Regions from separate parts of the Homo sapiens genome. Here all the other regions are linked to region 6. The links come from fine-mapping of genetic effects on gene expression. A gene starts in region 6. Each other region holds a variant in brackets. All regions are shown on one strand. Distances are from middle to middle.

The links. PIP is the estimated chance that this variant, and not a neighbour inherited with it, causes the effect. A credible set is the group of variants that fine-mapping cannot tell apart.
Region 1: its variant is the best candidate, but not a certain one, in a credible set for the expression of ZFYVE28 in skeletal muscle (GTEx, PIP 0.85).
Region 2: its variant is the best candidate, but not a certain one, in a credible set for the expression of ZFYVE28 in cerebellar hemisphere (GTEx, PIP 0.64).
Region 3: its variant is the best candidate, but not a certain one, in a credible set for the expression of ZFYVE28 in whole blood (TOPMed, PIP 0.87).
Region 4: its variant is the best candidate, but not a certain one, in a credible set for the expression of ZFYVE28 in pituitary (GTEx, PIP 0.54).
Region 5: its variant is the best candidate, but not a certain one, in a credible set for the expression of ZFYVE28 in whole blood (INTERVAL, PIP 0.75).
Region 7: its variant is the best candidate, but not a certain one, in a credible set for the expression of ZFYVE28 in pancreas (GTEx, PIP 0.52).

Annotation. Positions count from the first base shown.
Region 1 is chr4:2,375,204-2,379,267 of GRCh38, reverse strand. The region is part of intron 1 of ZFYVE28 (zinc finger FYVE-type containing 28); the gene reads left to right. Among named protein-coding and RNA genes, the nearest start is that of ZFYVE28, 41 kb to the left of the region's middle. The variant CT/T (reference allele first, on the strand shown) is at 2,055.
Region 2 is chr4:2,383,478-2,387,541 of GRCh38, reverse strand. All of the region lies in intron 1 of ZFYVE28 (zinc finger FYVE-type containing 28), which reads left to right. Among named protein-coding and RNA genes, the nearest start is that of ZFYVE28, 33 kb to the left of the region's middle. RefSeq lists an enhancer at 45-559. The variant A/G (reference allele first, on the strand shown) is at 1,846.
Region 3 is chr4:2,359,776-2,363,839 of GRCh38, reverse strand. All of the region lies in intron 1 of ZFYVE28 (zinc finger FYVE-type containing 28), which reads left to right. Among named protein-coding and RNA genes, the nearest start is that of ZFYVE28, 57 kb to the left of the region's middle. The variant C/T (reference allele first, on the strand shown) is at 1,624.
Region 4 is chr4:2,337,000-2,341,063 of GRCh38, reverse strand. ZFYVE28 (zinc finger FYVE-type containing 28) reads left to right here. Exons shown (of 13, transcript NM_020972.3): 4 at 1,409-1,611; 5 at 3,568-3,657. It overlaps LOC124900649 (a long non-coding RNA gene), which reads right to left and starts at 1,296. Exons shown (of 2, transcript XR_007057991.1): 1 at 1,150-1,296; 2 at 1-1,024. RefSeq lists an enhancer at 962-1,651. The variant A/G (reference allele first, on the strand shown) is at 1,597.
Region 5 is chr4:2,329,437-2,333,500 of GRCh38, reverse strand. The region is part of intron 6 of ZFYVE28 (zinc finger FYVE-type containing 28); the gene reads left to right. Among named protein-coding and RNA genes, the nearest start is that of MXD4, 69 kb to the right of the region's middle. RefSeq lists enhancers at 1-177, 108-187, 178-975, 976-1,773, 2,088-2,587. The variant A/G (reference allele first, on the strand shown) is at 2,313.
Region 6 is chr4:2,417,033-2,421,096 of GRCh38, reverse strand. ZFYVE28 (zinc finger FYVE-type containing 28) reads left to right here and starts at 2,452. Exons shown (of 13, transcript NM_020972.3): 1 at 2,452-2,812. The coding sequence starts at 2,774. CFAP99 (cilia and flagella associated protein 99) reads right to left here and starts at 2,142. Exons shown (of 16, transcript NM_001193282.4): 1 at 2,004-2,142. RefSeq lists silencers at 1,928-1,977, 2,218-2,447, 2,568-2,727 and an enhancer at 3,733-4,064.
Region 7 is chr4:2,295,797-2,299,860 of GRCh38, reverse strand. All of the region lies in intron 8 of ZFYVE28 (zinc finger FYVE-type containing 28), which reads left to right. Among named protein-coding and RNA genes, the nearest start is that of MXD4, 36 kb to the right of the region's middle. RefSeq lists a silencer at 1,547-1,646. The variant G/A (reference allele first, on the strand shown) is at 2,084.

The DNA.
Region 1 (4,064 bases), 42 kb after region 6:
GAGGAAACTGTAAGTCCCTCCCATTGCTTTCTTTGATTGTTGAGGGCTCTGTCTCTCCCTGGAGCGGTCCCCCCAATGCCCACACCTCCTTGCTCTCTGGCACGGGTTCTGCTGCCAGCATGGTGCAGACTGGGGGGCTTGGCCACTCTCAGATGCTGTCTGTCCATGTGACCAGCCCCCGTCTACCCCCTGCTGTCATGAGACAGCCAGGCCCCTGGAGTTCTGGACACCTTCCCAGTGGCTCACCAGGATGCCTGGAGCCCAGAAACATCCAGGTGCAGATGTACCCCATAGAGGAAGAGCCCTCTGCTCAGAGCCTCTGGCACCAGCTTCCACCCTTGTGGGAGTCTAAGGTGGTTTGGGAAGGGGCAGGTGGACCTTGATTCTGATTTGGCTTCAGTTTGCCTCTTCTTTCTTTGGGAATAATCAAGATCTGTGGCAGGCCCTGGGAGAATGAAAGGCTGGGTATCGGGTCTGAAACAAAAACAAGTAGTCGTTTTGGCTGGCTCCAAAATTCGTGGTTGGGTGGGTGGATGGAGCAGGGGTGGATCAATACCTAGTCTCAATCCAGGAAAGCAGTACAGAGGAAATGACAGGGTGCTGCCTCACAGTCCACAGGAGGACCAGCCCCAGCCGGGAGTCGGGCAGCTTCCCTAAGAAAGAAGGAAAAAGCATCAAAGTTCAGTGGAGAAGTTCCAAAAAGTGTCTCATAGGAGTCCCAGGGAGAGAGTGGAGAGGAAAGAATGATGGAAAAGCTGTATTTGAAGAAATGGTAGCTGAATTTCCCAGTATTGAAGAAAGACATGAGTTCTGAGATAAAAGGAGTTCCAAGTAGGATAAAGAAATGTGCAGTCATGGGCCATGTGACAGGCCACATATACAATGGTGGTCCCATAAGTTATGATAACGATATTTTTTTATTTTTTTGAGACAGGGTCTTGCTCCGTCACCCAGGTTGGAGTGTGGTAGTGTGATCTCAGTTCCCTGCAACTTCCGCCTCCCGGGTTCAAGCAATTCTTACGCCTCAGCCTCCCCGGCAGCTGGGACTGCAGGCGTGCACTACCGTGCCTGGTTAATTTTTGCATTTTTAGTAGAGATGGGGTTTTCACCATGTTGGCCAGGCTGGTCTCGAACTCCTGACCTCAAATGATCCGCCCGCTTCAGCCTCCCAAAGTGCTGGGATTACAGGCGTGAGCCACCGCGCCCAGCCTGTTAGGATAACCGTATTTGACTGTACCTATTCTGTTTAGGTACACGAATACTTCCCATTGTGTTACAGTTGTCTACAGTATACTGTTCAGCACAGTAACGTGCTGTGCAGGTTTGTGGCCCAGGAGCAACAGGCTCTACCATGTAGCCTAGGTCTGTCGGAGGCGGGGTCATCTAGGCTTGTGGAAGTCCATTCTCTGATGTTTGCACAATAATGAAGTCAATTGACAACACCGTTCTGAGAACATATTCACATCGTTCAGAAATACCTGGGAGTAAATCCACACTGAGATGTATTGTGGTAAAGCTGCAGAATGTCAAAGATGAAGAGAATCTTTAGAATTAACAGAAAAGACAGAGTAACTACGAGAAATGGAAAAAGCCCCGCAGGTTTCTTCTCAGCAACCCCAAGTGCCGCAAGATAGAGAATGAGCCCACAGTGCGGCGGGAAGGCGACTGGCAGCCCCGAATTTTAGACCCAAATGAACTGCTAGTGAAGGGGCAGAAGGCAAGATGAAGACATTTTTCAGGCAAACATTTTTAACCATTTACAGATGCTCGTTGTAACATTTCCTATTATAAGATGTACATCAGCAAGAAAAGGGAACTCGGAGGAAAGATGATGGGATAAAAGAAACAGCTGCAAGGGTGGAAACTGATAAAATGTCAGCGAGTTTAGCTCATAATTGTTTAAGAAATTATGTGTGTCCTAAAATAGAGATAAAAGTAAAGCCCTAGGCCGGGCGCAGTGGCTCAACGCCTGTAATTCCAGCACTTTGGGAGGCCGAGGCGGGCGGATCACAAGGTCAGGAGATCGAGACCATCCTGGCTAACACGGCAAAACC[CT/T]GTCTGTACTAAAAATACAAAAAATTAGCTGGGCGTGGTAGCGGGCGCCTGTAATCCCAGCTACTCGGGAGGCTGAGGCAGGAGAATGGCGTGAACCCGGGAGGTGGAGCTTGCAGTGAGCCAAGATCGCGCCACTGCACTCCAGCCTGGGTGACAGAGCGAGACTCCGTCTCAGAAAAAAAAAAAAAGTAAAGTCTTAGACCAGTGCTGTCCAATAGAAATAGGATGTGAGAGCTTTGGGTGCAAGCAACACGTATACACTTTTATTTTATTTATTTATTTTTTTTGAGACAGGGTCTCGCTCTGTTGCCTGGGCTGGTGTACAGTGGTGCAATCTTGGCTCACTGCAGCCTAAACCTCCTGGGCTCAAGGAATTCTTCCATCTTAGCCTCCCAAGTAGCTGGGACCATAGGGTCATGTCACCATACCCAGTGATATGGTTTGGCTTTGTGTCCCCACCCAAATCTCATCTTGAATTGTAATCCCATAATCCCCACATGTCGTGGGAGGGACTTGATGGGACGTAATTGAATCAAGGGGGCAGTTCCCCCCATGCTCGTCTCATGACAGTGAGTGAATTCTCAGGAGATCTGATGGTTTTATAAGCGTCTGGCATTTCCCCTGCTGGCACTCACTCTCTCTCCTGCTGCCCTGTGAAGAGGTACCTTCTGCATGGTTGTAAGTTCCCTGAGGCCTCCCCAGCCATGCAGAACTGTGAGTCAGTTAAACCCCCTTCCTTTGCAAATTACCCAGTCTCAGGTATTTCTTCATAACAGTGTGAGAATGGACTAATACATCTGGCGAATTTAAAAACTTTTTTTTTTTTTTTTTTTTTTTTTTTAGAGATAGGGTCTCACTATGTTGCCCAGGCTGGTCTCAAACTCCTGGGCTCAAATGATCCTCCCACCTCAGCCACCCAAAGTGCTGGGATTATAAGTCTGAGCCACTGTGCCTGGCCAATTTGAAATTTTCTAGTAGCCACATTAAAAAAAAAAAGTAAAAGAAACAGGTGAAATTAATTTTAATAATATTTTATTTGGGGCCAGGCACGGTGGCTCATGCCTGTAATCCCAGCACTTTGGGAGGCCGAGGCGGGCGGATCACGAAGTCAAGAGATTGAGACCATCCTGGCCAACATGGTGAAACCTCGTCTCTACTAAAAATACAAAAAATTAGCCAGGCGTGGTGGCAGGCGCCTGTAATCACAGCTACTTGGGAGGCTGAGGCAGGAGAATCACTTGAACCCAGGAGGCAGAGGTTGCAGTGAGCCAAGATTGTGCCATTGCACTCCAGCCTGGGCAAAAAGAGCGAAACTCCATCTCAAAAAAAAAAAAATTATTTGACCAGAATATTGTTTTAACATATAATCAATATGAAAACTATGAGATCTTGCACATTCATGGTGAACTCTGAAATCTGGGGCTCCAATCGCCCCACATGGTAGGGTTAGAAGGGAGGGGTGGAGGCTGTCAGTGGGATGCCCCTTGTGTGTGGGGCGGTGCTTTCTCAGCCTGTGATAAGAGGTGGGGGCGGCACAGTCCTGTGTCCCGCCCCCAGGGCAGGCGCCACGTCGTTTCCTCTCCTCCTGGTCCATGGAGGAGTTGAGGGGTTAGTGTGTGGGGCAAGCTACCTCCTCACACCGTCCTTTAGCACAAGCAAATGCAGTGAGCTCAGCCGCTGCTCATTCTTGTCAGTGGGCATGAGCCAGCACCTGGCTGGGTGTGGATTCATTCAGTTTGGTCACCAAGTCGTGACTTTATCTGGGGGTCACAGTGTGAGCCACTGCTGTCCAGCAGGGGGAAGAGCCCGGCAGAACCCTTGGGGAGGTACCGGGGCCTCCTTCGATGCTGGCCCGGCTGATTGACCCTGGGTGATTTGGGCCTTGTTAGAACTTAACCCCCTACTGATGCAAAGTTGCTTAAAATCAGTTGGAATGACTTAATTATAACATTTTCCTGTAAAAAGAGGGCTTGAGGATAAGAAGAGAAAGCCACCTTCCCCGAGGCTGC
Region 2 (4,064 bases), 34 kb after region 6:
CACTGCTCCTGGCCCCATATCCCGTGTCCGCAGCTGCTCGCCAAGTGGGGCGGCACATCCCTGACAGGCAGATTACCCCCAGGCACAGCACGAGGACAAGGACGTCACGTTCGCCTGGACTTGGGTCTCCTGCTTCCGGCCGGCAGGAGGGCAAGCAGGCCAAGTGATGGGTTCTGGCCAATGACGGGCAAGCAGAGTTGCGTCACTTCCGGCCGTGAAGCTCAGTTTCCCTTCCCAATGAGACTGAGGTGCAGAGGTGGCCCTGGCTGAGGGGATGGGTAGGGGAGAGCCACGCAGCCCTAGGCTGGACTGTGCTTCCGGGTTCCCAGTGGACTGCCAGGAGCCTTGGGGGACCCTAGGCCGCTGGTGGCGAGCTCCGGGGTGGGCCAGCCTCCTCCTGCAGGCAAACGGACTGTGGCACCGCTCTCCATCCTGGCTCAGCCCCCTCCTCCAGGGAGTGGCCCCGGCCCCGGCCCCGGCCCCGGAGTCTCCTGCAGTCTGCGGAGCCGTCCAACCCCCTGGCTGTGTCCGGAGATCTCCATTCTGGGGCCTCAGCCCTACTGCCCGTGCTACCTGACTGCCGGGGGCCAGCGGGGTTTCTTTCCAGACAAGACTGGACTAGGAGGCTGCTCCGGGAGGCGAGCTGAGGGCAGCGAGCTTGGCTGGCACCTCAGGCGGGCGGGCATGGCCTCAGCAGGCGCGCAGCGGGGTTTTACTGCTGAAAGCGCCTGTCTTAGTCTGTTTTCTGTTGCTTTAATGAAATACCTGAGACTGGGTCATTTATAAAGAAAAGGCATTTGGGTTTCTTACAGTCCTGGAGGCTGAGATGTCCCAGGTCACAGGGATGGTCTGGTGAGGGCCTCCTTGTCTGGAGGGACTCTGGAGACCCCAGGCGTCCCAGGGCATCACGTGGCTAGGGGGCTTAGGAGAGAGAGCCAAGGTAGCTTTTATGACAGCCCCGTTCTGTGATGGCTCATTGACCCTCAGTCCACAAACGGCTGGATTCATTTATGAGGACAGTCAGTCACCTCTTAAAGGCCCCACCTCTTTTTGTTTTGAGATGGAGTCTCCCTGTGTTGCCCAGGCTGGATTGCAGTGGTGAGATCTCAGCTCACCGCAACCTCCGCCTCCTTTGTTGACGCCATTCTCCTGCCTCAGCCTCCCGAGTAGCTGGGAATACAGGTGCCCGCCACCACACCCAGCTAAATTTTGTATTTTTGGTAGAGAGGAGGTTTCACCATGTTGGCCAGGCTGGTGTTGAACTCCTGACCTCAGGTGATCCACCCGCCTTGGCCTCCCAGAGTGCTGGGATTACAGACATGAGCCACTGCGTGCAGCCAGCCCCACCTCTTAATACTGTTCTTTTGGGGATTTACTTCCATGTGCATTTGGGAGGGGACATTCAAACCATAGCCCTGTCTGAGTGGAAAGCCAGCTGCTGCAGCCGTGGGAGTGAACACCAGCAGGGAAGGGAAGGGAAGAAATTGTGGGGTTTTTGGTGGGAACAGAAAAGAGACATTTGGGATTAGTCTGCAAATGGAAAATTAAATTCTGTGCTGGCTCTGCCCTGGGATGAGAGCGAGCCCGGTGCAGTGCTTGTAGGGGACCCTCAAAGACTCCGCTTTGTGAACTCAGGACCCACTGACAAAGTCAAATTGTGATTTTAACTTCCCGGAGAACCAGATGGGTCCCCTGTGAGGGCGCCTGTCTGCGGCTCTTAAGCAAGGAGCTGGGAGCACTGGAGTGGGGGTGTGAGAGGGTGTCAAGTCCCGCCTTGTGAAAGCCTGGTGTGTTTTTTGTTTTTTTTGTTTTGTGAGAAGGGAAATCTGCCCCGTGCTGTCCTGA[A/G]GAAGGCAAGCCAATGGGGCTGGAGGGAATCCATGTAGGAGGTCAGAGGTCAGCCCTGAGGGCAAAGGCTCAGATGCAGGCAGTGGGTGCCCTCTCTGCTGTCCGAAGCCTGTGGGAGGCCATGTAGGCAACCATGTAGGTCTGACCCGCTGCAGAAACAAAGGGGCGCTTTGCTGCTTGGCGTTGCTCAGGGTCCCAGCTGACAGTCCAGAGACCTAGTCTCAAATCCCAACTTTGGCAGGCCGGGGTCAGGAGACAGCAGCTCTGTAAGGGCAGCAGGTGCTCTCTCAGCGCTGGGGCTGTAAGGGCAGCAGGTGCTCTCTCAGCGCTGGGGCTGTAAGGGCAGCAGGTGCTCTCTCAGCGCTGGGGCCTGCTTCAGGTGGGTCTCACCTTTTTCTGCTGCTGTTCTTGGCCCACTCCCTTACCGTAAGTAGCCACCATACAGGCCAGGGTCATCACTGTGCTCCTCCATGGCCCAGGTCTGTCTGTCCTGAAGCCACTGACGGGAAGGGGTGGCAGCAGTGCGGGTGTATTCCCAGAGAGCCTCTGCAGTTGTGATGAGGTGGGTCCCTGAGTGACTTGGCCTTCCAGTCTGGTCCCCCTTCTCGCCAGTCCTGGGCAGGTCAGGCCAGCTAGGTTTGCTTATGCATGGCTTCAAAGGTGAGGCCTTTTACAAACTCTGTTTATCACTTTGCTGCACTCCTTGAGGGTGTACAGGATTGGTGTGTTTATGATAATCCTTAAAATCAGGACAGATGATTGCCCTACACTCCCCTCCCCCCAAGTCTAGGACCTGAGCCTGTCTCCGTCACATCTTGAAAAGGCAAGAGTTCTGTGTGACTCCTTGTGCAGAGTGGGCTGAAGCTTGGGCAGGTGTCTCACACTCCAGGTGAGTGAGGTGGCTCCTGGCCTTTGTCTTCTTTTCCTATGCTGAATTAAATAAAGATTTTTCTGAAGTAATTCAGTCATTCATTTGTTCACAAGTCTTGGCTGTGTGTTTCCATGCTCCCCCTATGATCCTGGCAGGTAAGGCTGTTTCCCTCCCCACCTACCTTCCCACCGGGCCCTGAGGGGTCGGCCCTCTGTGCTTCTGCTCCCCCACCCCATCCAGCACTCCCTCAGGAGGAGATTCCTGCTTGGGTGCTGCCTGGTCCCTTCCCCTCCTCTCGTTCTTGCTTAAACTCACTCCTGCTCCCAAACTGCATTTGTCACGGTCCTGGTGGCCTGCCTGTGCCCCCTCCAGTGGTCAGTCACAGCCCTGTCCTGGGAAACCAGGCAGCTGGAGTGACCCTGGGCAGCCCTGAGCACTTGTTCACTCCCTTGGCGGGTGGTCACTTCCCTCTGACCCTTCTTGAATAACTTAATCTGTAGGGTACAGAAGCTTTCACACTTTCCTACAAAACCAGTTTCCTCTTCGCAGATAAAGGGAATTCCTTCCAGAAAGTTTCTTCTGTCAGCAGTGCAGTCTCGGTTCCTCAGCGTTTGTCGAAGTACCCGGGGAGGAGAGGGCTCTGTGGCATTGACTTTGGCTGACAGTCCCGGGGGCCTCTTCCCTGTGGGTAGAATGTGGGAACCCAACACTGCATCTACTCTGTGTACCCCAGTCCAAAAATCACTCTGCCTGTGTGGGACATGTGCCCTACCCTCTTGCCTGTCTTCCTCAAGGCCCTTCTTTGCAGAACAGCCCCAGTGGAGACACTTCAGGGTGATGGGGACATCTTAGGTCATCAGGGCATCATTGAGAGAGACTGTGAGTGATGACCCTGTGTGACGACCTCATTTTCTCCAGTCTTGTGAAAGAATGGCTCCTGGAGATGGCTCCTGGAGAGCGAGTGTCTGTAACACACGCCAGCGACACCACACACAGAGAAAGGCCCTTAGCCTTGTCTGTCAGGGTCTCTTAGGAATAGAATATTCTAGATCTGTGGAAGGCCTGCTGGAAAATCCCAACCAATGTGAAGCGTACCTCCTCCTTCCAGTGTGTGGCCTGCCATTCACTCCAGTCTGCACTGATGGTGCCAAGGCTTTGACACTTGAAGCGTGATATGAAAAGATAAAGGCATTTTAACAGAAGATACCGGGTCAGTGGAGGTGACCGAAAGCAGCATTTGATTCCCCAGGTCATCCTGGGCATTGGGATAAGTGCGCTGCCACTAAGGGAAAGGAGTATTAGTCTGTTTTCACGCTGCTGATAAAGACATACCTGAGACTAGGAAGAA
Region 3 (4,064 bases), 57 kb after region 6:
CTTACCTCCTCTGGGGTGGTGGGGACTTCAAAGCAGATTCGCTAATTACCAGTCCCAAGAGAAGACTCCTACTTCGTGGAGAACAGCAAAGATCGTCATAGCCAAATACCAGGAACTTCTGCCTGTGGGCACTGCATCCTGGGCTACTGTTTAGTCCTCCATGCGCTGGTGACCTACATGCTCACATACAAGTTACGCAACACAGGTTGATTACTTACAGATAGGAAGCAAGGGACAGAGCCAGTCCCCAGTGTCGGGAAGGCTGCCCAGGGCAGATGGATTGCTGACTGCACATGCTTCTCTTTGCACCAGGGCTAAAGGGCCCTGCAAGCAGCCGCAGGTTAGAGCCCTCAGGGACCACGTGACCCCCAGGGCAAAGCTTTGAAGGACACCCTGCTTCCAGGGAGAAAGAAGCAAAGCCCAGGCGGTTCCTCCCTAACTCAAGCTGTTACAGTCCCTGGGAGGGTCAAGGACAAGTTCCAGGCTGTTCTGGGCAGTCCCTCCCTATCTCTGGATGCCGCGTCCTCAGCACGTTCTACCAGCAAGCAAGAAAGCTGGGAGTGCTGGGTTGATCCCAGGCCCCCTGGAGAACATTCCTGCAGGGATTATCTGAGCTATGCCACTCCCACAGGTGACCTGAGCTGGGTGACATATATGCCACTCTCACAGGTGACCGGTCAACGGTCATATGAGGGATTAAACTGTGTCCAGCCCCCACCCACCAAGCCCTAGAACTGCCAGGGTCTTCTGAGTCTCGGAGGAAGTAGCCAGCAGTCTCAGCAGTTCCCTGGTCAGGCTGTGCTGGGGACACTCACCATGTAATGGGGTTGAGGGGACCACGGGGATGGTGATGAGCCCAGGGCTTGGTGCCACGTGTGGGCCCGAAGGCCACAGGGAGGGCCAGTACCGAGTCCTGAGAGAGAGCAGGGGTGGGTGGGGTCCGCAGGAGGCCAAGGCAGGAAGTGAGCAGGACCGTCCCATCCTCACTCCCTGCCAGGCCTCCTGCTGACCCAGCGTGCCCACTGCAGCTCCCTGACCCCAGAGGAGGGCAGAGAAAGGGGACAGATGGATGGGGAGGGAGACAGTAGCAACAATAGTAACATTGGGGTGGGTGTGGCAGCACGGCTGTGCCTGGGACCACAGGAGTGTGTGCCTGTCTGGGGCCCCAGATCTGCTGCCGGTGGCTGGTGGTGCTGCCAGGTCAGTGGGCCCCCAGCCTGGCAGCCCCTGGGGTGTCTGCTGTGGATGAGGCCTGCCTTGGGGACATGGGTCATGGCTGCCCATGGACGTCTGGCCTCAGTGCGGACAGGAGGGGTTGGGCATGTGCAGGAGGGGCTGGGCCTGTGATTGGCAGCAGTGAACAATTCTAGCCCCAGTGGTGGAGGGGTGGAGGGGCTTGCTCGGCCATTAGTTGGTCATGGTGAGGGCTGAGGAACAGCTGCTGTGGGGGTCACAGCTGTGGGGCCGCATTTGTGTGTCCCAGGCAGAGGCTCTTCCCTGGCTTCTTTGCGATGCTCTTGGATTCCTGGTGCTGGAGCGAGAAGTCCCAGGCTTTAATGGAAAGCTGGCCCTGGAGAGGCCCAGGCGGTGCCTCAGACACCTGGTCCTCACCCCTGCATGCTC[C/T]AGCCTCTGTCCAGCTGAAGTCTGCATGTGACCACTGTCTCCTGGAGATCTGCTGATATCTAGGAGGCAAACACACCTGGGTCTCCACGGCTGAGTGTGGGGGCTGTAGGGGTAGGGAGCTGGCTGCCTGGGGTGGTCTGTCTTGGGAACTGGAGCTTAGAGCCCAGCTTATGTCCTGGGTTCAGCTGTGTGGGGAGGGAGGCAGTAGGAGCTGGACTGGGCTTCCGTCCCTTGTTGGGGCCCATGGGGCGGGGCTGGTCCTCTCTGGCCTGGCTGTGCTGCCTGTCCTCCCATCTGTCCCGCCACCTGCCTGCTCCCATCCTCCCTGCCGCAGCTCGGCCAAGACTGTGATGCTGCTGCCCTGGAGTGACAAGGTGTCTCTTTAAGGTCCCCACCTGCAGGATTTATGTCATATTTGGCAAACAAGAGTGTGAAAGGGATCCAGTCCTGGGCCCTTACCCCCTTACCGCACATAGATGCCAGAGAGTCCTAGTGACACCTGGGCTGAGATCTGGCGCCTTGGCATCCAGCGATGTGGTCTTGGCCATGAGTTACCTTCAGGAGTGTCAGTCTCCTTGTCTGGGTGGAAGGCGTGGTGTGATGGGCTGTGCTTCCGTGCCCTGTGCAGGGCTTGGAGCCCCAGCCCTCCTGGGCCTCAAGGTGGCTGGGGCCTGCCCCAGTGGGTGGGGTAGTGCGTGTAAACTCTGAGCCCGGTGGCCAGCCCTCGTAACTGCTGGGAAACACTGCAGGGTCATCACACGTGGGTCAGACGGGCTGAGCTCACACGTGCGCACCGCGTCTCTCTCCCTGCACGTGCCTCCAACCCGCACCTCCCACCTGCAGCCACAGCTCACATTAGGGACCAGGGGCTCGAATGAATTAACAGTTTAATCAGCTTTACAAAATTAGCCCAGAGTCAGTCCATCCTTGTATTTTTTGAACCGAGAGCTGCTTTGTTCGTGCATATTTTCTCCTGCTTTTTTTGAGGATGTCCGTTCAGTAGTCATCTGACCCCGTGAACGAAATGCCTTCTTTACGGGTTTGACTCCTTTTAACAGTGAACACTTTCACTGTTTATCTTTGAGAAAATTTATCTTTGAGAAAATATTGATGTAGTGTGATTTTAAAAGAGCTTCCTACTAGGTTCTAATTTATTCTTTTACAATTTTTATTTCAAAAATTTTAACAAGTGAGTACTTCCTATTTATATCAATTGATTCCCTTTATTGTGGACATTGTATTTAAGGACATTTAAAAACTGAATTTAAAATGAAATTGTAAAATGTCATTGAATAAAGCTGGTGGATTCAAATCAAAGGGAGATGCTTTGTCAGTGATGGAACATTAACCGCCCCTCCCCATTTATCTGTCGGGCCCGCAGGCTCACTTGAGGGTGAGCCCCGTCGTGCTGGACAGATTTAACACTAAGTGATGAGTAGGTTGAGATTATAATTGTTTGCTTTATACTCTGCATACTTAGAAATGGAAATTTAGTACCCCAAATTTTCTTCTGGATTCTGTTAATCAGGATAGACTGAATTTTGTAAGCTGTGTTCATTCATTTCCTGGGACCCCTGCCTGAAGGTGTCTGCTCACAGTGAGGGGTCTGGGTGGGATGACTGACACAATGAATAAAGACCCCTCCTGCTCCCGCCCCAGGCACTGCTGGGACCATGTGGGAAACTTGGCCTCTTCCTCTGAAATACTGGTCCTGAATGGCCGGGACGCTAGCTCAGGGGCTAACTCAGCTTTTCAAATAGCACGGGGTTTCTGTGTGTGCGTGCGTGCCTGTGTGTGTGTGTGTGTGTGTGTGTGTGTGTGTGTGTGATTACAGCTCTCTTTTTGCAGATGGTCAACACCTTTGTAGGTCTGGTTTTAAGGTCTTTAATTTACTGAAATCAAGGTACAGCGGCAGGGTATTTGCTTGTGGGCACTGATGCCAAGTCAGCAGTGTGACTGTGGTGCCCGTCATGGCATGGTGTGGGGCGGGGTGTGGTGAGTGTTGTTCCTCGTGGTCGTGAAGACACTCGGAGCTTCCCTGTTCTCGGGGGCAATGGCTTTGGACACGCTGTTCAGGATGCCCCTTTCCCACGCGCAGGCAATTATACCGTCAGAGCCCATGGCCCCTAGACATCATGGAGGCCTCCTCAAATCACAGAGAACCACAAATGGCCTCGCAGGTTGTTGTAGACGCCGTGCGCTTGTCCGGGGTGGGTAAAGGCTCCGAGGCTCAGGTCCAGGGCCCGAGGGGGCTGTCCTTCCAGGTGGATGGGGGTCCCCAGGGTCTTTCAGGGAAGCTTGAGCCCACCCCAAGAGCAGCTTCCTCAGAGTTGTACAGGCCCACAGATTTGAGGTTTTACCTTGGAGGAGGGTTACCTGGCAGGGTTTGCTAAGTGGATGTCAGGGCTCCCAGGCCCTCCTGCATGGCACTGCAGCATGGA
Region 4 (4,064 bases), 80 kb after region 6:
ATCTTCATCTTCATCTCCCAATCAGGAAACTGAGGCACCGAGAGGAAGGTGCCCTTCAAGGTGGCGGGAACAGTCTCCCCCAGGCCCCCACCATGCGGACTCCCCAGCCTCCTCCCCTTGCCGTGCTCCCGAGCCTGACCTCAGCCCCGACACCGCCACCCTCTCTATTGTGCCGTCCCCATCCTGCCCGCCTCCCCTTTCTAGGAATCCCTGGGGTGCGGAGTCTTCATCCCACGCTGCCCCGTCCCTGTGTCCACCCTGCCCACCCCACCTTCTGAGCCACCTGGTTGGGGTGTCCTCTGCCGAGGCTTGGGTTAGTTACAGGGGCCCGCGGGCAGGTTCTCCCTCCTCCCCAGCCTCAGTTTCCACCTCCGTGGAGTGGGTCCTGGGGCAGTCATGAGATGGAGCGTGTTCTGTGCCCGGCTGGCCTGGCAGGGGCATGCATGCACAGGGGTGGGCACAGCTCCTTGTGTGGTCCTGGTGCCCCAAGCTCTGTGCCCACCTGCAGCTTGGGCCTGGGCGATCAGCGCCGTCTCATTCTGTCACCTGGGAAATGGCTTCTTGTCCTGCATCACTTGATCATCCCTGAGGGGACAGCAGGTGGATTGGTTCTATCCTAAACCTGGCGAGGCCCCGGCCTCTAGACAAGCCTCCCTGTGACAACAGGTCTACCAGGGCCTGGACTCAGCCCCTGTGCCAGAGGGCAGCTTGGTGAAATTCCCAGTTGCTGAGCGCACGCTGGGGAGCTGCCTCGCAGCACCCAGGGCAGACATGGGTGGATTTGTGGGTGCGGAGGAGCCCTCCTTACCTGCCCAGGAGCCCAGGGACTCTCACACTGATGAGTCTGCGTTCCGGGGAAGGTTGCGTTTCTCTGGCAGTGAGCAACTTGACAGGTGGTGTCTGTGGCTCCCTAGATAGGCTGGGGACCTCGGGCCCGGATCAGCCCGGCTGCTTCATCCCTGGGAGCACAGACCTGATTGTGGAGCCTGGAAGCTCCAAGCTCCTTGAACTTCATCCCTGTGGCCTGGACGGGGAGCGGAAAAGAGTCACATGACCAGGGTTCCTCCTGCAGGGAGCCCCCAGACCCAAGGGCCTCAGTCCACCTTCCCCTCCCCTCCCCTCCCCTGCCCTCCCCTCCCCTGCCCTTACCTGCCCTGCCATGCCCTGCCCTCCCTGCTCCTGGGGCCCTGTGAGGACCCCGTGGGTCACATTGGGGGACATCGGTTATCGCCCTCACGATTGCTCTGAATGTAAGAAAAACCTCCTGCGGGGACCGGGAACACGAGCTGGCCTGTGCTGTGGGGTGAGAAGAGGGGCCCCGAGGTGCGCAGTCAGGTTCCCCGGGTCGGCGACCCCTGAGAGCCTGGCCCTCACCCGGGCCCCTCCCTGAGTGTGTCCCCTCCCGCAGTGCCTGGCCGCCGGCTCCATCATCATGAACCGGGAGCTGGAGAGCATGGCCATGCGCCCGCTGGCCAAGGAGCTGACGCGCAGCCTGGAGGACGTGCGGGGCGCCCTCCGTGACCAGGCGCTGCGGGACCTGAACACCTACACAGAGAAGATGAGGGAAGCGCTGAGGCACTTCGACGTCCTGTTCGC[A/G]GAGTTTGAGCTCAGGTACTGCAGCTGTGGGTCCACAGCCCTGGCTGTATGAGCTGGGGGACGGTTGTGCCAGCTTCCGGGGCTCACCCTGATACTTCAAGCTGGAAAATTCCACAGAGGGAGGAGCCAGGCAGGTTCAGGGCCGCCTGTGGGTGGGGTTAAGCCCTGGAGAGCATAGCGTGGAGGTGAGGTGGGGCATCTTTCCAGGGAGTGGGGTGAGCACAGAGGACACAGGTGTGGATCTGGCCGCCGTGGGCCTCCAGGGGAAGGGCTTTGGAGAGGCCCGAGGGGCCAGACATGCATGATGCCTCGGAAGATGAAGAGACGTCACAGGTGAGAAGAAAACAGAGGCAGCCAGGCGGGTGCGGTGGCTCACGCCTGTAATCCCAGCACGTTGAGAGGCCGAGGCAGGCGGATCATGAGGTCAGAAGATCGAGACCATCCTGGCTAACACGGTGACACCCCATCTCTACTAAAAAAAATACAAAAAATTAGCCGGGCCTGGTGGCGCGCCACTCAGGAAGCTGAGGCAAGAGAACCGCTTGAACCCGGGAGGCAGAGGCTACAGTGAGCTGCGATCCAGCCACTGCATTCCAGCCTGGGCGAGAGAGCGAGACTGCATCTCAAAACAACAACAACCACAACAAACAAAACACGGAGGCAGATGGTGTCCGCAGAGGTTCAGTTAATAAGTTTTTCATCTTGTAATCTACTGGCCCCTAGGAGATCAACCAATGCATTAAGGGCAGTCCTCTGCAGGAAGCAAGAGCACGGACAGTCGAGTTTTATTTTCTTGTCTTCCCCAAATTTTCTAAATCAGCTTCCATAAGAAAAAATTAGAGTTAGTGATTTATTTATTTATTTATTTATTTTCTGAGACGGAGTCTCACTCTGTTGCCCAGGCTGGAGTGCAGTGGCACGATCTCAGCTCACCGCGACCTCCACCTCCTGAGTTCAAGCCATTCTCCTGCCTCGGCCTCCCAAGTAGCTGGGATTACAGGTGACCACCACCACGCCTGGCTCATTTTTTTGTGTTTTCAGTAGATACAGGGTTTTACCATGTTGGCCAGCCTGGTCTCAAATGCCTGACCTCAAGTGATCTGCTGCTGGCCTTGGCCTCCCAAAGTGCTGGGATTACAGGCGTGAGCTACTGCACCTGGCCTAGAGTTGGTGGTTTAGAAGGAAAGAAAGTGCTCTCATCTGGGGAAGGGTTGGACAAGCCTTCACGTCTCAGAGCCACTGGCAGGCCTCCTGCAAGCCGCTGTGCCCAGCCTGGGCTGGCTTCCGTGGCTGTGGAGGTCCACGTGCGGAGGTTCATGTGGGGCTGCGGGTTGTTCACCCACCCGTGCACGTGTTCATTCGTTTCTCTCTCGCCCCTTAAGGCTGGTGCCAAGGTGGGGGATGGTCCCGCACATGGGCAGCACTGGGTCCAGGGTGGTCAGGCTCCAGGGTGAGCCCTGGGAGCTGGCACAACTGTCCCGCATGGGCAGGGCTGGGGTTTCAAGGGAAGGCCTGGGGTAGGCCTGGCTGGCAGGAGCTGTGTACTATGAAACTGCCGAAATGGGATGGTGGTGTAGGGTGTGTGTGTGTATTTTAAGAGAAAAGGTCTTGCTTTGTCACCCAGCCTGGAATGCAGTGGCACCATCACCATTCACTGCAGCCTCCAACTCCTGGGCACAAGTGATCCTCCCACCTCAGCCTCCCAAGTAGCAGAGACTGTAGGTGCCTGCCACCACCACACCCGACTTTTTTATTTTTTGTAGAGATGAGGTCTTGCTGTGGTGCCTCGAACTCCTGGGCTCAAGCCATCCTCCCACCTCAGACTCCCAACGTGCTGGGATTACAGGCGTGAGGCCCCCCGCCCCCACCTTGCCCAGCATTGCAGCTTTAATTGAAGATGCCCCCCACTCTGTTTTGGAGGGGCCCCGCCACAGCCCAGGTGCGGCCTCACAGGTCTCCATGTGTTTGCAGCTACGTCTCGGCCATGGTGCCTGTGAAGTCCCCCAGGGAGTACTACGTGCAGCAGGAGGTCATCGTGCTCTTCTGCGAGACGGTGGAGAGGTGAGCACAGGGATGCTTAGGGGCTGGGGGCAGCATCTGGGGAGTCCCTGCCTCACTCCAGGCCCGGGGCAGAGGGCAGCTCTGGGGGAACCTGCTGTGTCTCGGGAGTGCCCCAGATGGAAGGCACCAGACGTGTCTTCCCACACTACATCCGGCTTCTCCTCACAGGTGGGCAGAGGGTAGAGGCCACCCCTGCCTTTACCTCTGCCCGGCCCCCTTCCACCGCCCCACGGTCGCTTTTCTGTCTGCCAGAAGGTCAGATCCTGCAGGTGAAGTCACTGTCAGAGGACAAAAGCTGGAAGGCTCTGGCATGATGGATTGGACGTCCAAACCTTGTCACCTTCCTCACCCCCTCACTCCTCACCTACTCACTCCTCATGTCCTCACTCCTCACCTCCTCACTTCCC
Region 5 (4,064 bases), 88 kb after region 6:
ACACTGAGTCTGCTGCCCGTGTTTGCCCGAGTACAGGCGACCGCAGAACAGCAGCCACTTCCCCCAACCAGTATCATCTGTGTCCTGCTTGCCGACCTCAGTCCACCTGCTGGTGGCCAAACCTCTGCTCCTCCTTCTGTCCTAGGCTTTCATCCTGGGAGGCAAGGGGAGGCGGGGGCTGGGGGATCAGGGTAGGGGAGGCCAGAGGAGGGAGGTGGGGGGGCAGCTTGGGGAGGGAGGTGGGGGAGTGTGGGGGGTCAGGGAAGGGCAGCAGGGGGGGTCAGGGAAGGGCAGCAGGGGAGGCCAGTGCTGCGGGGGAGGCCAAGGGAGGGAGGTTGGGGAGGGAGGCTGGAGCTTCTGTTGGCAGAGGCTTTGTCCCGCGGGTCCCCTCCTGGAGGCACTGGCGTGGGGTCCCCTCGGGCTCAGGACAGTGGGAGAGCCTGGAAAGGGAGTGAGGGACCCCCAGGAGGTGAAGGGGGCTTGGATTGAAGGAGGGAGGAAGGGCGAGAGGGCATAAGAGCCCAAAGCCAGAGTCCAGGGAGCAGGCCTGTCCAGGGGGGTGGCCAGCTGTGAGCCCCCACAGAGGCAGGCATCTAGCCACAGAGCCAGGCTGTGGATACGAGGAACCGTGGGGTGCACCAGGCTGCCACTGCAACCCTCTGTGCAGCGAGCCTCGAGCAGGGCGGGTGAGTGCTGAGCGGGTGAGTGCTGAGTGGGCAGCTGTTCCTAAGGCCGCCCCTCTGGGATGCTCACTGGGGCCCTGCAGCCCTGCACCACCAGCGGATCCCGTCTTGTTCCTCGTCATCCACAGCGACCGCTTTGAGCCGGACAGGCAGAGGCCACAGCTGCCCGTGGTGGGGCCCAGAACCTGCTCCTTCCTGTGTTCATTCAGTGAGCAAGTATTGAGTGCCTACTGCATACCTCGCCCTGTGCTTGTACCAGGGAGATGGACAGATGGGCTGACCCACAGTGCTGTGGAATGTTCTGGATGCTGGAAGGGGGACTCAGTGCAGGGACCCCATGGGGTGGACAGGAGCTGAAGGCGTGAGGGAGAGGCTCCCCAGGGCAGCCGGCCCAGAGGTGGGAGCTGTGCAGGTGGCAGGCAGGGGCACGTTGGTGCAGGTGGTGTATGCTCAGGGGCAAGTCCAGGGCTCGAGCAAGGACCAGGGGGCCGCAGGAACTTCTGCAGAAATGAAGACCCCTCTAGCCTGCATTCCTGGGCCCACACCCTCGCAGGATCCTGCCTCTGTGAAGTGGGCATCCTGGGACCCCCCAGGTGACCCCCAGGGAACACTGAGAGCAGAGGGGAGGCAGGGGTGCTGAGCGGGGCAGGAGCTGAGGGTGGAGCTCCTCTGTGGCTCCTGCCCGTGACTGTGCTGCTGCCCGAGAGCCCCAGTCCCTTCTCCAGCACACAGTGTCAGAACAGTGATGCCACATTTACCAAGCATGAGCTGCGGGCCAGGCTCCCGTCCCCTTCTGAGGGGCTCCCAGTGGCGAAGGCACCGCTGGGGGTCAACAGCTGGAGGCGGCAGAACCAAGCCCACCCGAGGGTCAGAGCCTGCTATTCACCTGTGACACAAGAAAGCAGAAAACTCTAGTTCTGTGGCTGGCAGAGGAGGCCTGCCTGGGGCAGAGGCAGTGGTAAACTGAGGCCTTCAGATTGGCAGGGGGAGGTGGAAGGGAGTGCTGGGTGGCACCCTTCCCCCTGTTTAGGGTGTCCCCAGCCTGGTGGGGTCTGGCCTTACCAGGCAGTGAGGACAAAAACTGGGGGTCACCCCTGTGGGGACTTGCTCTGAGCCGTAGGGGAGGGGCCCCACTTGCCCTGCACCCCTCAGCCTGTCCCCTCCCTAAGACCTGCATCCAGTCAGTCCCTCCTGCTGATTGAGACACGCGTCCTGGGGAGAGTGTCTCCACGAGGCTCAGACTCTTTGACAAACTGGTTTTACTTTTGGGGATTTATCTTAAAACAGTTTCTTTTTTTTGTTTTTAACTTTTTATTTTTATTTTTTAATTAAAAAAAAAATAGAGACAGGGTCTTGCTGTGTTGTCCAGGCTGGTCTCGAGTTCCCGGGCTCTAGCAATCTGCCTGCCTTGGTCTCCTAAAGTGCTAGGATTACAGGCATGAGGTACCGTGCCCAGCCCCGGCCTTAAAACAGTTCCTTTAAAGGAAGAAATGAAATAAAACCTCTAGACCCAGTGGTCACTTCCCAGTCCCCATCAGCACAGACCTGCCTGCCCGCCTCGCTGCGGCTTCGCCCGTCTGCACTCACAGCTGTGTGTGTGCGACGCTTCCCAGACCGGACCTGTGCAGA[A/G]CCCAGGCCCCTCTCCTCTACCCCTCCCTCCCTTCCTCCCCAGCCCCTCCTTCCAGCCCATCCCAGAATCTACCCCTCCCTCCCTCCCCAGCCCCCTCCTTCCAGCCCATCCCAGCGTCTACCCCTGCCTTCCTCCCCAGCCCCCTCCTTCCAGCCCATCCCAGAACACGTGCAGGAGCCACCGCCCACGTGGCCTGCAGGATGGTTGCCGGATCCTCTTCAGGGGCCCTCACCCATCCACCTGTGTCAAAACAAGGTGTCATCTCTGCCCTGCTCAGACCCTTGCCGGAGCTCCCACCGTGATCTGCCTGCACCGTGCCCACACCAGTCCTCTCTCCCCAGTCCCCACGCACCCGCTGCCCTGGGTCTCCACCATGCTGTCCCCTTCGCTCAGGGTCCCCTTGACTGTCCTATCCCTACTGCCACACTGTCCCCTCCCCCGCACTGTCCCCTTTTCCATGATGTTTCCTCCTCCACGCTGTCCCCTCTGCTCCAGTGTCCTCTTGGCCATGCTGTCCTCTCCATGGTGCTGGCCCCTCCACTACACTGTCCCCTCCTCTATGCTGTCCCCTTGTCTATGCTGTTCCCTCCTCTATGCTATCCCATTCTCCATGCTATCCCATTCTCCATGCTGTCCCCTCCTCCATGCTGTCCCTTCCTCTGCAATGTCCTCTCCCCTGTGCTCCTCTGCACTGTCCCCTCCTCCATGCTGTCCCCTCCTTTATGATGTTCCCTCCTCCGTGCTGTCCCCTCCATGATGTCCCCTCTTCCGTGCTGTCCTCTCCTCTGCACTGTCCCCTACTCCCTGCTGTACCTCCCTCTGCGATGTCCCCACCACTGCACCGCTCACCCAAGCCCTCTCCCACCAGCAGGTTGCGTGACTTACTCTGTTATTTATTTTTCCATGTTACTGAGATAAAATTCATTACCCTATGACTCACCCATCTACAGTGCACAGTCGTTTTTGGTACATTCAGAATTGTGCAGCCATCACCACAAATTTCATAACATTTTCATTACTCACAAAGATGTCTCTTACTCCTGAGCGGTCACCTCCACCCCCTATTATCCTTCATCCTGCCCCTTAACCCTAGGGAACCACAAATCTATTTTCTGTTTCTATAGATTTGGCTATTGGGTTATTCATATAAATGGGATTTCTGTTATTTTTGTGTCTCCCCCACTAGACTATAACTCTTATTCACGGATGCATCCTGAGTGCCTGTCATGTCATAGTGTGGTGGACTTTTGCAGAATTTTGTTGCATTGATCTGAGGGGGCACAAATATATATCCACAAAGATTATCCCCGAAGTATTACTTGTAATCATAAAAATTTGAGAAGGGATGGATATCCAGAATTAAGGGATTGGTTAAAAACAATACTGTAGCCATTTAAATAATGATGGAGAAAAATCTCCTAATGCTATGCAAAAACATCCCCAGTGTATTAAGCACAAAAACTGTTATCAAATAGTATGTCTCTATTTTACAGAGTTTCTTAACATTGATAGGTAAAACTTTTGTAAACAGAAATTAAAGCAATAAACATTCTTCTTTATTGTGGTAAAATATACATAACAAAATTGGCCATTTTGACCCTTTCTTAGGGTTTTAATGGCAAAAATTGCAATTACTTTTGCACCAACCTAATATATAGGATTTACCCTTTTGTGACTGTCTTATTTCACTTCACATAATGTTTTCAAGTTTCCCCCATGTTGTAGCATGTGTCAGAATTTCCTACCTTTTT
Region 6 (4,064 bases):
GCAGCTTTTGCTAGTTGCTTTTCAATCTCCACTACCCCTTTCCTCCCAAATAAGAAAACTCTGATTTTTAGCTGGGTCTACTGCTGCCCAATTGAAAGATGGCATTTCCCAGCCTCCCTGGCAGCTGGGGCATGGTTGTGTGGCTAAGTTCTCCCACCACCTTCAAGAAGTGGAAAGGTGTGAGACTTCTGGAAAGTCTCCCTGAACGAGAGAGGCATATCCATCTTCTCTTTTGCAGCTGGTTCCTGGGCCGAGGAGGTGATGGCAGGAATGTGGGCAGCCATCCTGGATCATGAAGAAACGTGAATGGCAGATAGAAAAGCTGATCCTTGAGGACTTTAGGGCTGCCATACCAACCACGATTGCCTCTCCATGGACCTCTTTTATAAAAATATGAGTAATATTCTTGTTTAGGCCACTGTGATGTTGGGATTTTTCAATACATGCAGCTAAACCTAACTGATACCCCACTTCCCCAAGTTCAGCCTTCATCCCATGCACAATTTCAAACTATAAAACACAGGAAGGGAGCCTCTGAGCAGATACAACTGCTCCAGGCCTTGGAGTTGGCCAAGGATAGACCCACAGAGAACAGCCATTCACTCAGTGGACAAGCCCATCAAGTGTCTACCCCAAGATCCTGTGCTGAAGAAATGATGGCTTTGGGAGCAGCAGGTTTTATGGGGGAAGACTGAGAGTGTGGTTTGGGACACGTTAAATTTGAGAGGATCTGTTAGGCGTCCAAATGGTGAAGAACAGGTAAACAGGTCTGGAGTTTCAGGGTTGAGGCTAGAGATATAGGTTTTGAGAAGTTTGGGAGAAAATGGTTGTTTATAAAACCATGTAACTGTAGGAAATCCCCCAGGGAGGGAGTGGATAGAGTAGGTTCCAAGGACTGAGTCCAGGGTCTCCAGTGTTGAGAGGTCGGTGAGCAGGGGAGGCATCCAGCCAAGGAGATCAAGCAGGAGTGGCCAGGAGCGAGGAGGAGAAGTGGACAGTGGGATCTGTTTCAGCCAAGTGAGGATGCTGTGTCACGGAGAGGGCACAGTCGGCTGGGTCACGTGGTAGTGACAGTTCAAGGAAGAGATGAGCGCTGACCCCGATCATCGGATTTTGCAACATCAAGGTCAAGGATGACTTTGATAAAGAGCTTCAGAGGAGTGGTTGGGTGAAAATCTGATGGGAGTAGTTTCCAGAAAGAACAAGTGGGAAGGAATTGGAGATAAGGGGAAACTCCAGAGGGGTTTTGCCCTTCAGAGGGTCGACTGGGTGGTAGGAAGAGGAGAGTAGGGAAAATCAATCAGTTACTCAAAAATAAACATGGACCCTACCCCCAACTAAGAGAAATCTTAGATGCCAGCGCGCCTAGGCTCACATCGCGTCTGTTGGAATAAAGTGGTCATGGAGCCCACGGACCTTTCTGAGCACCTGGCACTGGCCAGTGAGGACAAGCAGGAACAGGTCAGACTTCTCAATTCTGAACCGAGGGGGGCATGACTTCCATCTCCTGTGTCTTACATCTGCACGTTTCACAACAAGCCAGAGACGTGGTGGTGGTGCGGCAGGGAAAAGTGCAGCGCTGTGGGGTCAGGCCGACCCAGATCCGCCGTGATCTGGATGCAACCCCCACAGCCAGGGCACGCCGGCCTCGTTGTGCCTGCTTCTCTGGCTGTCAATGGGAAGTTTAAGTGAGGCCACGTGTGGGTTTTTAGCTCTCTGCTTGACACATAGCAGGTACTCAGATTGAGGTGAGCGTTTTAAGGTACAAATTAGGGCACCACTGGGGGGAGTAGCGAGGGCGGAAGAGTATCTTTTTAGAACGCACCGCTGATAGTGGTGATTTAAAAAAAAAAAAAGAGGCACCGTTCACTTTCATCGGGGAGCTGGGAAGAAGACAGAAGAGGTGTTTGGGAGAAGCAAGATGAGCAGCGAGCGAGAGGGAACCGGCCGGCAGGTCATGAAAATCGGCGGCGCGTCGCCCCGCACCTGTCCCGCCCCCGTACCTGGCGGGCGCTCGGGGCAGCCGAGCCCTCCTGCCGCCGCCACCTGCCACCGCAGCAGTTTCCTGGGCCAGCTGGGGCTAAGGTGTTGGCAGTCGTCGTCCGTCAGCTCCCGGTAGGCAGGACGCCGCGGCTGTTTGGCGTCGTCACCTAGCAACCGGCGGCACGCTCCGCCGCCATCGGGTGGACTACAACTCCCACAATACACAGCGCCGCGGCGCGGCCCGGGACGCCAAGCCCTGGGCGCCACCTCCCCGCCATGCCTTTCGGGACTTGTAGTTTCTTGGATACCCGGGCGCGGCGGGTCGCCCCGCCGGCAGGGAGCGCGCCTCGGGCGGGGTGCGGCGCCCGCGCAGGGATTGGGCCGCCTCCGCCCCGCCCGCCCCGCCCGCAGCGCGCGGTGGGCCCGGGGCTCGCGGCGCCCTAGGCGCATGTGCGGCGCGGGGCGGCCGTGACCAGCGGAGCGCTGGGTGTCAGTGAGCAGCGAGGAGCCGCGCGCCCCCGTGCCCGCGTCTGTCCGTGCGCCCGAGCGCCCACTCCCGGGTCTGAGGTCTGCCCGGCGCGCCGCTTGCAGAGCATACTCAGGGCCGCGCACCTGCCCCGCGCACCTGCCCGCCGCCCGCTCGGCGCTCCGGGCTTCGCTAGCCAGCCTCCCTGCGACAGCGCGGGGGCTCCGGCCGTGCCTCCGCGTCCGCCCCGCGCCTCAGCCGGGCCCGGGCGCAGCGCTGCGGAGGGCGAGGGCCGCCCGGAGTCCGGCCAGGGCCGGCGCGGCGATGATGAACAGGTTCCGAAAGTGGCTCTACAAACCCAAGGTGAGCGGCCCCGCTCGGGCCGGACGCCCCCCGCGTCGCGGCCTCTCCCTTCCCCAGGACCGCCCGTCCGCCCTACAAGACGGACTCCCTTTCCCTGTCCGTGGCCGGCCTCTTCCCCCACCGCCGACATCCTTCCCTCCACTCCAAGACTTGGACAGATCTTCATCGCCCTGTCTCTGAGGCGGATCCGAACCTCCCTCCCGGCTTCCTAAGCCCGGGTCCAGGACTGACCCTCCTGCTCCTCCTCTCGGGCCGGGGCGCACTTTCCCTCCCCCTCTATCCAGGGCCACAACGGGCCCCTCTCCCTCCTCATCCCGGTCCTGGACGGTGCCCTCCTACACTTCGTGGTCCCCAGCCCGCGGGCCCGGAGCAGACCCCCTACTACTTCTCCGTCTCCCCTCCCTGCACCAGGAATGCCCCCTCATTCCCGTCCTGCCCCCACCCCCATTGTCCTGGGCCCGGAATAGATCTCCCTCCGCACTCCAGAACAGACCCTCTCCCCACTTCCCCAGGTTCTGAGAGAACCCACATTTCCCAATCCCTGGGTCCAGGGCAGACCCGTCCTTCCATGTCCAGAGAGGATCCTGATGGCCCTGCCAACGGCCTCCCTTCCCGAACCAGGACTGACCCACACCTCGGCCCAGTTCGCGTCCCCTCCCTTGTCCCTATCCTTGTCCCTTCCCCACCCACGTCCTCTGGAATCCGGGACAGGTCCTCCGCCCGGCCCTTGGGGCGAGCGCGCCCGTGGCCAGCAGCCTCGGCGGGGCGGGAGGTGCGGCTCTCCAGCCGGCGCCCGCGCCTCTCCTAGCGCCGCGGGGTCGGGGTCCGGGCGGCGCGCCCCGTGCCTCAGCGGCTGCGCCAGTCGCACTGCGGGCGCTGCGTCCCCGCCGCCCGCCTGGGGCTCGTGCCCGCTGCAGCCGGAGCAGGGCCGGGCGCGCTCGGCGCGGGATGAAGGCGCGGCGGTGTTCAGGATCCCGGCGCAGGGTCCAGGGCGCATCTGGGCGTCCGAGGGTGGCACCCTGGGGCCGGCGCAGCGGGGAGGCCCGGGCCCTGAGATCTTGGGGGAGGTCACGGCTCGGGTGGGGTCACCGCGGCGACCAAGGGCGGGAGTGGGGCCAGCGCTTCGTCCGGGCAGCTCGGACGTCCGAGGCCACCGCGTTGCCGACCTACCCCTCCTCCCTCCACTGGCCGCCTTTCTCCGTCCAGCGTCCCAGGCCTCCGCCTCCACCGTGGGTGAGCTGTCACGGCAGAG
Region 7 (4,064 bases), 120 kb after region 6:
TGTACCACTGTACTGCAGCCTGGGTGACAGAGTAAGACCCTATCTTTTTAAAAAACAAAACAAATAAGGAAATAAATATCACCCCAAATCTTATGAACAGTTTTATTTTTTTTTCCACTGAACATGGTTTTATAGTTTCCTCTATGGTTTTTTGTCTGCCTCTTGGATTCTCTTTTCTTTTTCTTTCTTCCTTTTCTTTCCTTCCTCCCTCCCTCCCCTCCCTTCCCTTCCCTTCCTTCTCTTTTCTCTTTTTAACCACAGGGTCTCCCTTGGTTGCCCAGGCTGGAGTGCAGTGGCACAAACACAGCTCCCTGTCTGGGCTCAAGCTGTCCTCCTGTGTTAGCCTCCCAAGGTGCTGAGATTACAGGTGTGGGCCGCTGTGCCCAGCCTTGGATTATTTCTTTAGAATTGGTCCTTAGAAGTAGAATCACCACAGCAAAGGTATGAAGCCTTTTAAAGCTCTGCCACTCACTGTCAAACTGCTTTCCAGAAAGAGCTGATTACCCCCAGCAGTGCCATCCCTCGCCAACACTTCCAACTCCAACTTGAGGGGGAAAAACGGAGTACCCTTCGCTGTTCCTGAGGTTTGCCCCCTCTGATCACTGCCAACCTGGGCAGTTGTTCTGTTAGCGCCTGCGTTTTTCGTTCTGGGAAGTGACTGTGTTTTCTGCTGTTTTTCAGCTGGGATGTCACGCTTTTTGGACTTGAAAATGTTCCGTCTGGTCTGTTGGTGGCTTTCTCCAAGTTGTTCTTGCCCTTTGACTTTGTTTTTGAATGTCTTTTGATTTGCAGATGTCCTCAATTTTATCTTGTGTAATTAAGTTTATAGAAATTCTAGAAACAAGTCTGTTCCTCTGCCTTTCTGGTTGATCGCGTGTGGTGCGAGGCGCGCTGCTCCTCTGTGGTGGGGCCGGGGAATGTTCTTCTCATCTCTGGTGGCCTGGGTTTTGTTTTTTGCCATCAATCCTGCAGCCCCGATGACTAGTCGGGAGGAGGCTGGAACCAGCGCAAGGGCCTCTGTGCATCAGAGTGGGACTGACGGAGGCTGTGGCCGTCCTGACACACGGTCAAGGCTGCCCGGGCGCTGGCTTAGGGAGGTCTCAGAGCCTGTCACTGTCCGTCCCACGGGGGCAAGGCCAGGCCTGCTCCGTCGTGCAGTCGGGCGCCTCTGTGACTGTACTTGAGTCCTCCCTTCCCTGCCACTTGTCCACCGTGCTCAGCATCCTCTCTGGCCGTTGCTCTAGGTAGAATGGTAGGAGTCTCACAGGCTTCTCAGGACAGACAGTGGCCAAGCCTCTGCCCCAACCCTGTGGCACATGCCCCGCCTGTGTGCGCCTTCCTTCCGGAACTTGGCAGTGGCAGACAGATGACAGACACTGAGGGATATCCCTTTTAGAGGAATCGCTGGAGTCATGGTGGGGAGTGCCCTGCTCCATACGCAGATGTGAGGGGAAAGGCAGTGCCTGGTGAACCGACTGCTCAGCCTGAGCCTCAGTTTTGTCATATGCAAAACGGACCAACAGCAGGCCCCAGCTACATGGCAGGATGCACTCCTCACGCATCACCACTCATCCTCTGCCGTTCCTCCCAGCACAGCCCGCTGTGTCACTGTGTCACCGTGTCACCCCACTGTCACCGCTCATCCTCTGCTGTTCCTCCCAGCACAGCCTGCCGTGTCACTGTGTCACCCCACTGTCACCGCTCGTCCTCTGCCATTCCTCCCAGCACAGCCCGCCGTGTCACTGTGTCACCGTGTCACCCCACTGTCACCACTCGTCCTCTGCCGTTCCTCACAGCACAGCCTGCCGTGTCACTGTGTCACCATGTCACCCCACTGTCACTGCTCGTCCTCTGCTGTTCGTCCCAGCACAGCCTGCCGTGTCACTGTGTCACCGTGTCACCCCACTGTCACTGCTCGTCCTCTGCTGTTCCTCCCAGCACAGCCTGCTGTGTCACTGTGTCACCCCACTGTCACCGCTCGTCCTCTGCCGTTCCTCCCAGCACAGCCCGCCGTGTCACTGTGTCACCGTGTCACCCCACTGTCACCACTCGTCTTCTGCCGTTCCTCCCAGCACAGCCCGCC[G/A]TGTCACTGTGTCACTGTGTCATCCCACTGTCACTGCTCGTCCTCTGCCGTTCCTCCCAGCACAGCCAACCATGTCGCTATATCACCGTGTCACCCCACTGTCACTGCTCACCTTGCTCCCAGATTGCGCTTGCAGCTGTTCCTGGCCATCTTTGCCATGATCAGTCTTGGCTTTGCCTCTGGATTTCATTGTTTCCTGGATTCACATCTCTGTCCCCCGCTCTTCTGGCGGTGACAGCTATCCCGGGTGGCATCAGGCATTGCAGTGGCGCTTCATGACCTCGCTCCCGGACAGTGGGTCCTGGCCTCCAGCTTGAACATCCACCCACCGCGCCCCACCTGGCGACTCCTCCGTGTGGCCTGGGGTCATTCCACCAAGCTCCTCTGCCCTCTGCCAGTGTGAGGACAGGGCTCAGAGGTGTCACGGAGGAGAGCCTGCAGCCGGTCTATCCCGAGGTGGCTGCAGCTCTCCCGGGCCTGCTGACCCTCTGCCCCATGGTGAGGTCGCTGCTGCAAATCCTCCTGGGCCCCTCCAGGCCATGACACAGAGGGTCCTGTGGCCCCCAGCCTGGCTCCCGGTGCGCAGCCCAGAGGAGGGCAGGTTGTAGCTGGCACATCAGTGAAGGCGCCGCTGCGTGGGGAGTCACCTGCTGCTGGGCTGGCACTTCTGATGTGCTTCGTTCCCACATCCACCATTCGGCTTTCCCACCAGCAGACAGGTGTTCAGCCCCTTCCCTGGGTGGGGCCTCAACCAAGGGCCATGCGGTGCTGTGGCCTCGGTGGCCCGGAAGCCCACGCTTCCCTCCCTGCAGCGCAGTCAGGGCTGACAGAGCCTTCAGTGGCCCGGCCCTAGTGTGGAGCTCTTCTGGGGGCTCAGAGGACACAGGCAGCCTCCAGGTAGAAGGCTGAGCTGCTGGGCTGTGGGGGCTCTCCGGATCCGGGGGCTCCCCAGTGGACCCACTGCAGGACAAGGGGACGGAGTGACAGGTCTGGGACTGAGGCAGCCCGGCCTTGCTCCAGTGCCTGTGACCTTGAGCAGCAGGTGCCGCCCCGCGGGCCTCCCCTCCCCCTCACTGGGAGGCTCACACGGCTGCCATTTCCCCCAGACTGTCTGGGGCCCGGTGGCAGGTGCTTGCTAGGCTGCTGCAGCCATTGGTCCCTAAAGCAGGTGTCCCGAGGTCCTGCAGGGAACACCGAGACCTTCCACCCACTTCATGCCCCTGGCAGGAAAAACAAGAATGATTGAGGGGTTTAAAAATAGAGGAGGACTTGGAATTAATTAGACTCTTGAAAAACAGATTAGGTGTAATGACTGTCATTAAGCCAATCGTTTATAAGTGACGGGGCCTCCTGGGCTGACACGGTGAGTCGGGGATAAGACCAGGGCTGGTCCGCCGTGCACAGGCCCAGGTGAGAGGGCAGGGCTGGGTTCTTGCTCTCGCTGGCCCCAGGCATGAAACCTTAGCAAGCTCGGTGATGCCTGTGTCACCAGAACCCCACAAGGGACAGTGATCGCCCTGCAAGGCCCTGAGTGGTGGCCTGGATGCAGTAGGCACGCAGGCCAGCAAAGTCCTGGGAGGAGGTGCCACCCTTCTTGCAGATGGGCCTCCTCCCAATTCACAGCTGGCCTAGAGCTGGAGAGAAGGCCCCAGCCTGGCTGTGCTCTCGGGGAGGCCTGGCTGAGGGGATGGTCATTACCGCAGGTCCCCCACATGTCCTCATGACCCCACCCAGGGCCCATCCTTACAGGCCCTCTGTTCCCTGGTGACCACAGCTTCTCCCCTAGCCTCTGGACCGCACCCCGCACCTCTTGCGACATCTGCCACCCTGATCCTTCCCCACCATCACCATCCACTCAAGGGCACCACCTGCAAGCAGCTGCGGCTACATGGAAGGAGCCCCTCACCATCCTCTCTCCCTCACGCCCCCTACCTGGTCCTCTGGCCAGTGCTGGAAAGAAATTAGAATTGTTTCATGAGGT